Homo sapiens: one gene and its partners. The protein of the gene in region 3 purifies or fractionates together with the protein of the main gene of each other region. This does not show direct contact. Each region holds a gene or a part of one and is shown on either strand. Other genes may lie near its edges.

Region 1 (3,647 bases), on a different chromosome or scaffold from region 3:
GGCCCAGCACAGGCTTCCTATGGGACAGGGGTGGACATACTGATCCAGAGCAGCCTGTGTTCCCACCACCTCCACCATCCCCACATGCTGCCCAGCCTATACCGTGTCTCCAGGTGGTAGTCCATGACGTCCCATGCATCCCAGTACAAGGGGACATCATCAAATAGCACAAACTGGTTCCCCACGGCGCCCTCAGCAATGGCCTCCCTGGAAGGACATGGGATTGGTGCTGTACAACCAACTGACCTCGCTGTCTCCAGCTGCTCTTGGTGGGGTAGGGTGGAGTGAGTAGACCCAGTGGACAGGGGACTACTGCCCAGCCTGCCCTGCTCCATGTGTGGGTTCCAGCCCAGAGCCACTGGTGGGCTGCTGTGGGCAGTGTTGTGGCAAGGGGAGAGAGGAAATGGCCTGGGGTCTACTTGCCAGGCACTGGGAAAGGGCAATGAGGATTTGGCACCTGCCAGAGGCCACCAGGACCAAGGACGTCAGGCGACCAGTTGGGTCCAGCTTCACTCGGATGATGCCATTGTCCAGAGTCACGGAGCCATCAGTCTTTGTGGGAGGAGGCCTTGAGGCTGAGTCTGTAGGGGCTTCCCACACCAAAAGTCTTCCCACCCCAACCCCAGCCCCGCCTCACCACTTGCTCCAGACAGGGGAGCTCAGGACCCTCAGTTGTAAGAAAGTATCCCAGCACAGTTCCTGCCCCCCAGGGCATGCAGGACTCACCTCTTGCACTACGAACACAGGCTGCTGGGGCAGCAGGGGCTGCAGTGAGGTGGGGGGAGGAACAGGAGCATAGCCCATGCTGGGCACTGTCACCAGGGCTGGGGGTGAGGCCTGGGCATCAGTGCAGCCTTCCTGACCTTTCAGGAAGCTTGCGCAGGTGGGGATGGGTTGGTGGAAGATGTGCTACTACTCTCCAGTCAGGGGCACCCAGATCCCTCGGGGTATCCCAGGCCTGATCTGTCTGGCCTCCATCCTTCCTGCTGCAGTAGCAACCCTTCCCCTCAGCTCGTACCTAGGCTGTGGGCCCCGCCCGGTTTGGGCAGGGCCATCACTTCGATCCGCTTCCAGGGCAGTGTGTTGACGATGAGGAGGCCCTCAGGACCTGGCTCCCCAGCACACAGGGCTGCGGCTGCAGCGCTGAGCAGTGTATTGCCATGGGAACGGATGTCTGAGGAAAGACTGGCTGGTCATAGGTGGGCAACAGGTCTGGAATGTGCCCATGGGTATCCCACAGGGGACACTCTGGGCTCAGCCCTGGGGTTGGAGAGAGCAGGCAGGACTATTGTGAGCCTAACCTTCATAATGGCACATGGCTTCCTCTGCCACCATCTGGATGCAGCTTCCAGTCACCACATCATGGAACTGGTTCAGAAGAAGGAGCCTGCAGGGGCCAAGGGCAGGGATGGGAAGGCTGGGAGGGGCAGGCACAGAGGTAACTGCAGTGAGCAGTCAGGTGGATGGCAGGGACAGAACTGGGCTGACCTCCAGAGGTGCTGCAGCTGGGCTGCTGGGTATAGGAACTGGGCACTGCGGGCCAGGGCCAGGCTACTGAGCAGCTCCACGTCGTGCAGGATCCGCTCACATTCCCGGTTCCCCTTCTTGATCTGAGCCCAGGATGGGAAGATTAGTCTGGAGCCTGCTTAGCTGTCCCAGGACACCTTCCAAAGCCCTCCCTTGCTCAGAATCCCTGAGGACTCACCAAGGGCCTCGTGGAGAAGGCCTCTGGCGGGTGACCTGCCTTAAATGCCTTCCCTCTTCTCCCCGCAGCCCAAACCCTTCTTTCTTCAGGGGTTTCTGCCTCCTTCAAGCTTTCTTGACCAACCCAGGTCTTGAACTTCTCTCCTCCAAACTTCTCTTCCCCTAGATCTGGCCTGGGCTCTGTCCCCTGCTGCCTTCTCTGACCCTCTGCAGATCAAGGGCACACCCTCCCTGCACAGCCCTGCAACCTCCCCCTGACCTGGGCATGGGTGGTGTATGTGCCATTGTGCAGCTCCAAGAAGAGCTCCCCAACCCACGTGCACAGCTGCTCTGAGTCACTCTCCAGTGCTGAGAAGAGCTGTCTTGGAGAAGATAGCTGCACCCTGAGGAGACCACAAGCCTAGGTCTCCCAGCCTTGGAGACCACATGGCTCACCCTTCTTCCACACCAAAGCAAAGGATCCAGCTCCTACAGAGAGGAGCCACTCCAGAAAGCTCCCCGTTCACAGATGGCCAGCCCTGGACGCCCTAGGAGAGCCTCTCTCTCTGATGGGCTGGAGCCCTTACCAGCTTCAGCTTCTCCCCCACCCACCCCCAGGGTGGAAGTTTGGAGGAACCCGTGGTCTAGGATTGGGACAGGACAAGGTCCAGAGGAGGGGTTGGGCCCAATGTCTGAGGGAAGGCAGGGCTCATGGCAAGGGCCCAGGGTGGGGCTAAAGGAGAGCCAAGGCCTGGCCTGACCTGGGCAGCCCATCCGTATTGCTCAGGCGCTTCAGGCGGTCCAGCATGGTCTGGGTGGGGCCACCACCCCCATCCCCAAAGCCAAAGAGGAAGGCACTGTGGTTGGCCCGCCCCTTGTCCCGGTTGTTGGCCACGGTCTTCAGCACCTAGACAGGTGAGGGCAGGCCAGCATGGATCAGCCTGGAACAAGCCAGCCCTCTCCAGCCTGCCCCTACCCCACCACCCTAGGTGACCCCTCACCTCCTCCACGCTGCCCTGCATCCCATAGGAGTCGCCAGGTGGGAAGTGGACCAGTACACGGGAGCCATCCAGGCCCTCCCAGAAAAATGTATGGTGCTACCAGCAGGGAAACAGAAGCAGGGCAGAGAGGCCAGAGTCAGGGCTGAGGCAGAGCCAGGCCTTCCAGACTTGGTCCTGCCCCTGCCTGCTATGTGACCCTGGCAGAGGCAGAGTGAGGGTTTGGTGGTCTGTCTAGGACCCCACAATAAGGGGGAGAGGCAAATGGGCCAGGCGGGACTGAGGCCCACTCTGACCCTGACCCCCCGGGGGCCTGCTTACTGGGAAGGAGTTCACCAAATTCCAGCTCAATTTCTGGGTGAGAAAGCGCCTGATGCCACAGCCGTGCATGATCTGGGGGAGCTGTGCTGAGTAGCCAAAGGTGTCCGGCAGCCAGAACTGTGGAGAAAGAGGATCCTGGAGTGCAGGAACCAGAGCTCCAGGCGGACTCACCCCAGCCTCAGCCCCTCAGCACTCCAAGTCGAGCGCCAGCCCCACTCGCCCACAGCCTGGTGTAGCAGCTCTCAGCCTACCTCAGAGCACATCTTCCCAAACTCCTGCAGAAAGAAGTTCTGGCCCTGCAAAAACTGCCTCACCATGGCCTCTCCACTGGGCAGGTTCCCATCCTGGCAGTGAAGGAAGTGGGAGGCAGCCCAGGTCAGCGCTGGACGGGGAGCAGGCAGGCGCTCAGGCCAACCCAATCCCTGCAGGAGAAGCCAGGGCTGCTCAAACATGGGAGTTACAGCCAGAACTCAGGAAGGGCCCCTGTCCTTCAGGCCTGACTGTCCATCTGCCTGAGGGGGTGCCCAGGACTAGGCCATGCAACTTGTCACAGCGCTGGAGGCTCTCCTCCCCCTTGAAGTCCCAGGCCTTGAGATCCCAGGGACTAATGAGCCAGCCCTGCCACACAGCGGGGATGAGTGGCCC
Region 2 (4,097 bases), on a different chromosome or scaffold from region 3:
CTAAATATGGTAATCAGAGAAGATTTTACCAAGTGGGATATTTGATCCATCACCTGAAGGACAGGAGTATGTCAATATCTGGGTTGCATACAGCATTATGGGCCATTATAAGGGGTTTTGTTGTTACTGAGTGTCAGATGGGAAGCCATTGGAGGAGTTTTGAGCAGAGGAGTGACATGATCTGACATTCACATAATAAAATTATCCTGGTTCCAAAAAACAGTGAGAGAATAATAGGCTTGAGTGATGGTGGCAAGAACAGAAGCAAGGAGAACAGTTGAGAGGCTAGTGCAATATAATCCAGGAAGCAGATCATTGTGACATAAACCAGGATAGTAGCAATGAAAAAGTGGTCAGATTCTAGATATATTCTGAAGGTAGAACCAATAAGATTTGCTGATCAAATAAATGTAGGATATGAAAGAGGGAAAAATCAAGATTGATTCCTAGGTCTTCCGCCTGAGCAACCGGAAGAATGAAATTGGTATTTAGGGAGACGGGGAAGACTGTGAGGAGCAGGTTTTGTGAGTGCAGCAGGTTTTGTTGGGGGTTGTGGGCAGGGGCAGTTTTGAACATGGTAAGTTGGAGATACCTATTAGGCATGCAAGTTGATATGTCCAGCAGGCAATTGGGCATAAAAGTATGGAGATACAAATTTGTGACTCATCAGCAAATAGATAGTATATTAAGCCACGAAGATCGGAGCATCACTAAGAAGATAAAGGACAGAAGATATCTTAGGCTTCAAGCCTTCCTCTACCTTTCAACTCCAGAAGTCAGTCCGTGACAAAATCCTATCAATTCTTCCTGTATAATGTCTCTCAATTCACCATTTTCCTTCCATTCCCACTGCTACCATTGTAGTCCAGGATCTCACCTTGTCTTACTTGGCTTTTACAATAGCCTCCTAACTGGTTTCCTTGCCTCCAAATGTCAACTTGAAACTCATCATCTCATTTGTCCTTCCCCTCCAAAAAAATCTTTCTACTTCTCCTGGGCTCTCTATCTTAAAGAATGGCATCACTATTCATAAGCATTTGCTTAAACTTGAAAATTTGAAATCCTCCTTGTCACCTCCCTTTCTTCTACTCTCCATTATGCAATTCTATTACCAAACCCTGACATTTTTACCTCCAAAATATAACTCAATTCTGTCCACCATTCTCTGTCTCTATTACTATCAATCTAGTTCAAGATAACATCACCTCCCACCTGGACAATGGTAATAGCCTCTTGACTACTCTTCTTCCCTCTAGTTAATCTCCCATATGAAAACCAGTGGAATCTTTCTAAAACAGTGCTATGCATATTTTGCCTACCTATTCTGTAGGTCCACAGAATAAAATTCAAAAGCCCTTCATCATTTGCCCATAACTTTTCTTTCCAATGGTATCTACTATGGCTTCTCTGGAAATTCCCCTCATTTCATCCCTGTGGGCTTGTCAGTGGTCTTTAGACCCACCATGACCACAGTGTGCCCCCAATACCTAGTGCAGACCTTCCCAAACATATTACAAGTGTCTGAGGCTATGAGATTTCTTCTCTGTCCTCAACTGAGCCCAGAGACAGTGCTGTTGAAACTCCTAGAATGCTTGCCTCTAGATGTCAAACTGCTTCCTCCATTCAGCCTAGTGTGCTTTACAAATACTATGCTTTTCTCTGCATGCCATGACACAATAAAGGTTGTGAAGGACTGCTTTAATGCACACCATTCCCAGAGTTTGGAAAGTGCTGCTCCATTCTCTTCTCTAAGTTCTAAGTACCCTTCTATGCCAAGTTCAAGTCTCACCTTTCTGATAAAGCAGTCTTTGATGCTACATATCCAACCTCAAAATTCTTGTATGATGTGACCAGACCACTCATTTGGCACTTAGTATATGTGCTGCTATTTAACTTTTTATGGTGAGACCTTATCTCTCTGTGTTGTCTGTTGCTTAAGAGCAACAATTTTTATACCGACTTTTGCACCCAGGGCCTTACCATACAGTAAGACACTCAGTATATTTTTACAATATTAATGAATAAATTAATTAATGAATAGATAGTTAAATTCCATCAGATGGTGCAATGGACAAGAACATTAGATTCAGAATCAGAGAATCTGGATTCTAGTGCACTTTGCCACTAGATGGTTGTGTGAGACTTCAGGAAAGTTGCTTGCCTTAGTTGCCTCATTCACAAAATAGGAACAATACTTCCCATTGTGACTTCCCAAGTTGAGATGGGATAATTTATGGAAAAAATATTTGGCAGATGAAAAGAGCATGTCGTTCATGAGTAATGCCAAAAGAGGCAGTGTGGAAGATAAAGAATGAGCTCAAAGAAGCTGCAGAAAACATTAGAGGGTTCATGGGTGAAAAAAAAGCCAAAGGGGTAAGGGAAATTTGCTAGCAAAGTAGACTTGCCCAGGAGTGATTGAGAAAGGATGATAAACACAGAAGAAAGAAAAATCAAGTTTCTGTTGCGAAGCAGTATAACACAGCCACTAGATCCAGACTGCCTAGGTTCAAAGCCTGGCTCTGGCACTTAACCAGCTATGTGACCTTGAACAAGTTATTTAACATCTCTGAACTTCAGTTTACTCATATGTATTATGGGGGCAATAATAATGCCTATTTCCAGGGAAGTGTTATAAGATGTAAAGGAGTTAATACTTATAAAGTACTTAGAGCAGTGCAGACCAGTGCCTAGCATATAGAGCGTTATAGAAGAACGTGTTAGATAAAATAATAATCTTCTCCTTACCAGGCAATACTCCAGTCCTCATGGCTGGCACTTTCTCCTGGGACCTGGAGCAGGGCTCACGAAAGTTCTGACTTGCTCTCCAGTGGGCACGTCTCCTTTCCACATTCCAGAGCCCAGTCCTCTGAGCTTAGCCTATCTCACTGCTCAAAGGACACTATGTTTCCCAGCCTACAAAGTTTCTTTTCAATTCTTTAGCCTTTTTCAAAACCCAATAGAGTTCCTTGTGAGAACAGATAGGAGTGAATTCCATAAGCTCCCAGAAGCAAATACAGACAGTATAATCTAATCTTTTAGAGCAATGGCTTTGTAATCAAGCAAAAGAGAGTTTGAATCAGGGCTCTGTAAATGACCAACTGAGTGACCTTGGACAAATCCAAGGTCTGAGCCTCAGCTTGCTTGTCTTCAAAATGAGGCCTCACAGGTGGTTGTCAGGATCAAATGAGAAAATGGACATGATGCATTCAGTATAGGGCCTGGCATGTGGTAAGCACTCAGAAAGTGTTAGCTCTTATCATTAATAATTCCTAGGATTATGGGTCTCGATTTTCCCAACTCTAGAATGTAATTTAATAGCACTATAGCTCTTATCCACTATTCCTCTGTCATCTCAATTTGACCCTTCCAAACTAAAAAGGTGCAAAAAAATATTCTTGGTGTGATAAGTTGACAACACTCTGCATTTTACACTCCCTTTGAGGTTTATGCCCAGTTTAAAAGAATTACAGAGAAAGAACCCGCAACTCTAAGTATGCTTCAGATTTCCATATGTCTGTAAATGCCTCAAAGACAGCAGTGGTCCTCTTAGCCTAGGGTGAACATCAAAATCACCTATTTTTATTTTTAATTTCATTAAATATAATTCTTCTGATAAAATGGCAAAGAATTTTTTTTCAAAATCCTTGCTTTTACCCTAGAAATGATACTCCTCATGAAACAAATGTCCAATGGGGAGACAGAGGGCCAGGCAAGTATATTTTGCAAAAGTTATCCAAGTCAGTCTCGTAAACACCCCTGATGTGAGAGAGGGACTGGAACATGCATTTGGAGGATGAGGCCAGGGTCTTGCCTTGAGAAAAAATCCAAGAAGGGCAAGTATAACCACTCTGCTTCCCACACAATGTGGGTATGTAGAAACATGCCCTGCACCCACAGGGAAGAGCATAGTATTTTCTCCTGCATGCATTAATCACAGAGGATTTCCCTCCTATAGTTATACAAGCATCATCCTTGACACATCAGTTGGAGAACTGTACTCAGTGAGAATACAAGATTCATCCAGCTTTGAAAATGTAACTATATCTAACAACTGGATTAAATATATTTCATGCCCAAAGATCTAATACTATTTAAAG
Region 3 (3,647 bases):
ACAGGGCCATTCTCCTGCTTAAAATCCCGGCTTGGTTTCTCATCTCACTCCGAGTAAAGACCTTCCAGCAGGCTTCACGACCCAGCCTGTTTCCTCTGATGTCTTCTGCCTCACTCCTGTGCAGCCATACCAGCCTCACCAACCTCAAACAGCAAGTATAAAGGCTAACCCTGGGTGGGTGGAAACAGAGAGGGACAGATGGATGGGCACACTGACAGCACTGTGTGGCAGGGTGAAGCCCTGATTCATAGTGTTTGCCAATTTCCAGAGTGTAAATACTACTAGCATGGCCAATTTTAAGACAGCATTTATGTGCCAGTCAGTTCAGAGAGACAATTGCCTCTTGTGAGCTGGTGCAATTTGCTATGAGCTCCAGCACACCCTTGGCACAGTTCTACTTCCCAGGTGGGATGATGGGACATGGACATTTTTAAAAATAGATTATTTTACATTTATGTAGACATTATCATACAAAGTTGTATGGAATAGCTATTTGGTGACCGATAGTTGTTAAAGAGAGAACTGGAAGGCAGGATCTGGAAGGCCCGGAACAGAGAACAAGCAGAACTGTATTCTCGCTTTCCTCCCTGACACCATCCCTTCTCCAAGCTCAGAGAAAACTCCAGAAAGGCTTCCAGTGGGCACCTGGTTCCTCAGGTGACAGGGATCCGAGCCAGGTGGAAGAGGTTTGTCAGGCCCTGGGAGCACTGGAGAGGGCCTGGAGTGAGGAGAGAGGAAGGAGCCATACCAGAAACAGCCTCATTTTGCAATGAGGCCAAACCAGAATGTGGGGCAGAGAGAAGCCCCTGCGTGCTGTGACAGGCATCTGAGCCATCCAGAAGACCCTGGGAACAGGATCATAGCTAGGGAGGTGACTTAGTGGTCAAGAAAAGACTATGAGGCTTTGAAGGCAGAAGGAACACCTGACTTTGAGTCCTAGGCACAATGCAGACTACTGAGAGTTCTAAGGCAAATGATCTGAAATCTGCCCGTGAAATGGAGCTAATAGCACTCTCCCCACCCCAACCAAACAGGACTACACTGATCCAATGGAAACCCTGTGTAAATGTCAGAGCCTCCAACCCACCCTTCCTTTCTTCCCAGGTGGCGCCACCTCCAGGCTCTGGAGAAGAAAAATGATAGCCTGACAGCTACTGAGTGCTCACGACTTGCCTCGGCCAAGCACCTTCATGTGGCACTTCATAAAGTCCTGCCAATGACCCAGCAAGGGCCATACTCTCATTATCATCCCCACTGTACCGAGAAGGCAGCGGAGGCTTGCAGAGGTTGAGGATCCCACCTAAGGTCATACCCAGCTAGTGAGTGGCTGAGCTGAGCTTTGAACCAAAGAAACTTGATATTGTCACTGTGACCAAAGGTGCCTGGGATGGGGCTAGGGGTGTGGGGAGCAGCAGTCCCAGTTCTACTGGGTCCTGGGCCTCCTACTGGCAGATTAAGAACAAGAGGTGGGGAGGGCGCAGTGACTCATGCCTGTAATCCCAGCACTTTGAGAGGCCAAGGTGGGTGAATCACTTGAGCCCAGGAGTTTGAGACCAGCCTGGGCAATATGGTGAAACCTTGCCTCTAGCAAAAATACAAAAAAAAAAAAACAGAAAAGAAAAAAATTAGCCAGGTATGGTGGCGCGCATCTGTGGTCCCAGCTACTTATGGGGGCAGGGGGGTAGCTGAGGTGGGAGGGTTGCTTTCTTGAGCCTGTGAGGTGGTGATTTCAGTGAGCCAAGATTGTGCCACTGCACCCCAGCCTGGGCAACAGAGTGAGACTTCAAAAAACAAAAGAAGGGAAGGAAAGGGAAGGGGAGGGGAGGGGAGGGGAGGGGAGGGGAGAGAAGGGGAGGGGAGGGGGGAGGGGAGGGGAGGGGGGGATGGGAGGGGAGGGACCAGAGGTGCCTGACTGCCAACTGGGATGAATCATCCACACATCAAGGACAGGGGACTGGATGTTCCCAGCACTCGCAAGCTGACATAGAGGACACATGGGCATGAAATAAGTGTCCTTGAAGATGTGCCCTGGGGTCCTAGACCCCATATGGAGTGGAAACCCCAAAGGCCTTCCCTGCCCAATGCCTGGGAGACCATGGGTGTTCACGGCCCCACCCTTGCCCTTTGACTTGACCTCGAAACAAGTTTGACCGCATGTTGTAGCCGAGGTCATAGTAGTCTGAGAAGACGGAGGAGATTTCCACAGGATTCTGGGTCCTGCTGGGCCATGAGCTTGCCCTTTTCTGGCCCTCGAAGACTTCATCAATAGCCTTTTGAGCCTGAGCAGGGAGGCAGGGATGACAGACAGGGGATGGAAAAGCAGTTTCAAGCCCCATATCTCCCTCCAACTCCTCCTCCCTTGACCCTGCCCTCCCCACCCCGATCCCACCTGTAGCCTGCAGCCCTCAACCTATTCACAGGGCTGGGGAGCTGGGGTATACAAAGGCCCCAGCCCCAACTCCTCTCATCATCTGCACTGCTGTGGGTGGGGGGCATCAAGTTAATGATCATAAAACCTCTTCCAAGCATTGAGCATCTGCTACCTGCAACATTGGGACGGGGGGTCTCTATAGGGTGCCACTCTTCCCACCATTTTATAAATGAGGAAAGCGGGCCTCAGGAGACCAAAGATCACCCAGTTCACATGGCTGGCAGGGCACAGAGCCCTGGCTTGCCTCCTACAACTGAGGCACCACACAGGGCAGCTCTGGGTGGGTGCTTAACTTTCAATGAGGCCAACTCCCTCTTCATACCAATAGGGAAACTGACACACAGAGAAGCTGAGCCCAGGTCCAGGGGCAGGACACCTAGGTTTGAGTTCCAGTTCTGCAATATATCAGCTGTTGACTTCAGCAAGCCTCTTCTCCACTCTAGGCCTCAGTTTCCCTACATGTAAAATGTGAAGGCAGGGTGGAACTGGATGGTCTTTGAAGTGGCTTCCAGCTCTGACACTTGCTGGCTCAATGACACTTGTGACATAAGTTACAGATGGGCAGAAAACACGGATTTCTTGATTCCAGCCAGGGACAACGGTGGCTGAAGAGAGAAAGGACTTCTCCCAAGGCTGGGCAGGGTGGTGAGAGGTGGTGACCACAGAGTCAACCTCAAATTGGGACAAGTTCCTCCAAGTGGGGCAGAACATGTCAAGACTGTGACCTTCCAGACTTGCTGGTGGTGGGGTCACTGCACTTTAAGATGACAGAGTGGAAGGGGAGCCTAGGAGAAGCCTGACCCCCAGCTTTTGTGACCCAAGCAGATCGTAGCCCCTCCTTGGGACTTGGTTATACTATCTGTTATAAAGGAAGCAATAACTCCTGCCTGACCTTCCACACAATGCAGTTGCTATGAGGGTTGAGATGGTGGCTTTAAAAATATGTCTCAGAATGCCAGGACAGAAAGAACATAGCATTTGACCAGAAACGGTAGATGAATTTTATCTCGTGTCAGTTGATTTGTAATGACTGCCTGGAATGCTATATCGGGTGGAAAAGAGTGCTGGCATTGACTAGTGATGTCTGCCATGAATGCAGGCTGGGAGGGTTGTGATACGCTCACCATGTATTTGTCAGCCTGATCTAGTGCAACTGCCTCGCTTTACAGATGTGGAGACTGAAGCCCAGAGAGGGTAAGTAACTTATCCAAAGTCA

Evidence for each region.
Region 1: the proteins of CIMIP4 (region 3) and MAN2C1 purify together in Homo sapiens (affinity purification with mass spectrometry; 3 studies listed by BioGRID and IntAct, with this or other methods). This does not show direct contact.
Region 2: the proteins of CIMIP4 (region 3) and RTL9 purify together in Homo sapiens (affinity purification with mass spectrometry; one large-scale study listed by BioGRID and IntAct). This does not show direct contact.

What each region holds. Positions count from the first base shown.
Region 1 is NC_000015.10:75,358,602-75,362,248, forward strand, and holds part of MAN2C1 (alpha-mannosidase 2C1), read right to left. Parts: intron 3,347-3,647; coding exon 3,254-3,346; intron 3,120-3,253; coding exon 3,003-3,119; intron 2,781-3,002; coding exon 2,685-2,780; intron 2,591-2,684; coding exon 2,445-2,590; intron 2,088-2,444; coding exon 1,964-2,087; intron 1,611-1,963; coding exon 1,489-1,610; intron 1,388-1,488; coding exon 1,302-1,387; intron 1,175-1,301; coding exon 1,019-1,174; intron 838-1,018; coding exon of another isoform or gene 825-837; coding exon 727-824; intron 591-726; coding exon of another isoform or gene 553-590; coding exon 458-552; intron 208-457; coding exon 103-207; intron 18-102; coding exon 1-17. UniProt on the Homo sapiens protein: Cleaves alpha 1,2-, alpha 1,3-, and alpha 1,6-linked mannose residues on cytoplasmic free oligosaccharides generated by N-glycoprotein degradation pathways.
Region 2 is NC_000023.11:110,357,565-110,361,661, reverse strand, and holds the start of RTL9 (retrotransposon Gag-like protein 9), read right to left. Parts: upstream 2,815-4,097; 5' UTR 2,746-2,814; intron 1-2,745.
Region 3 is NC_000022.11:36,997,706-37,001,352, forward strand, and holds part of CIMIP4 (ciliary microtubule inner protein 4), read right to left. Parts: intron 2,280-3,647; coding exon 2,135-2,279; intron 1-2,134.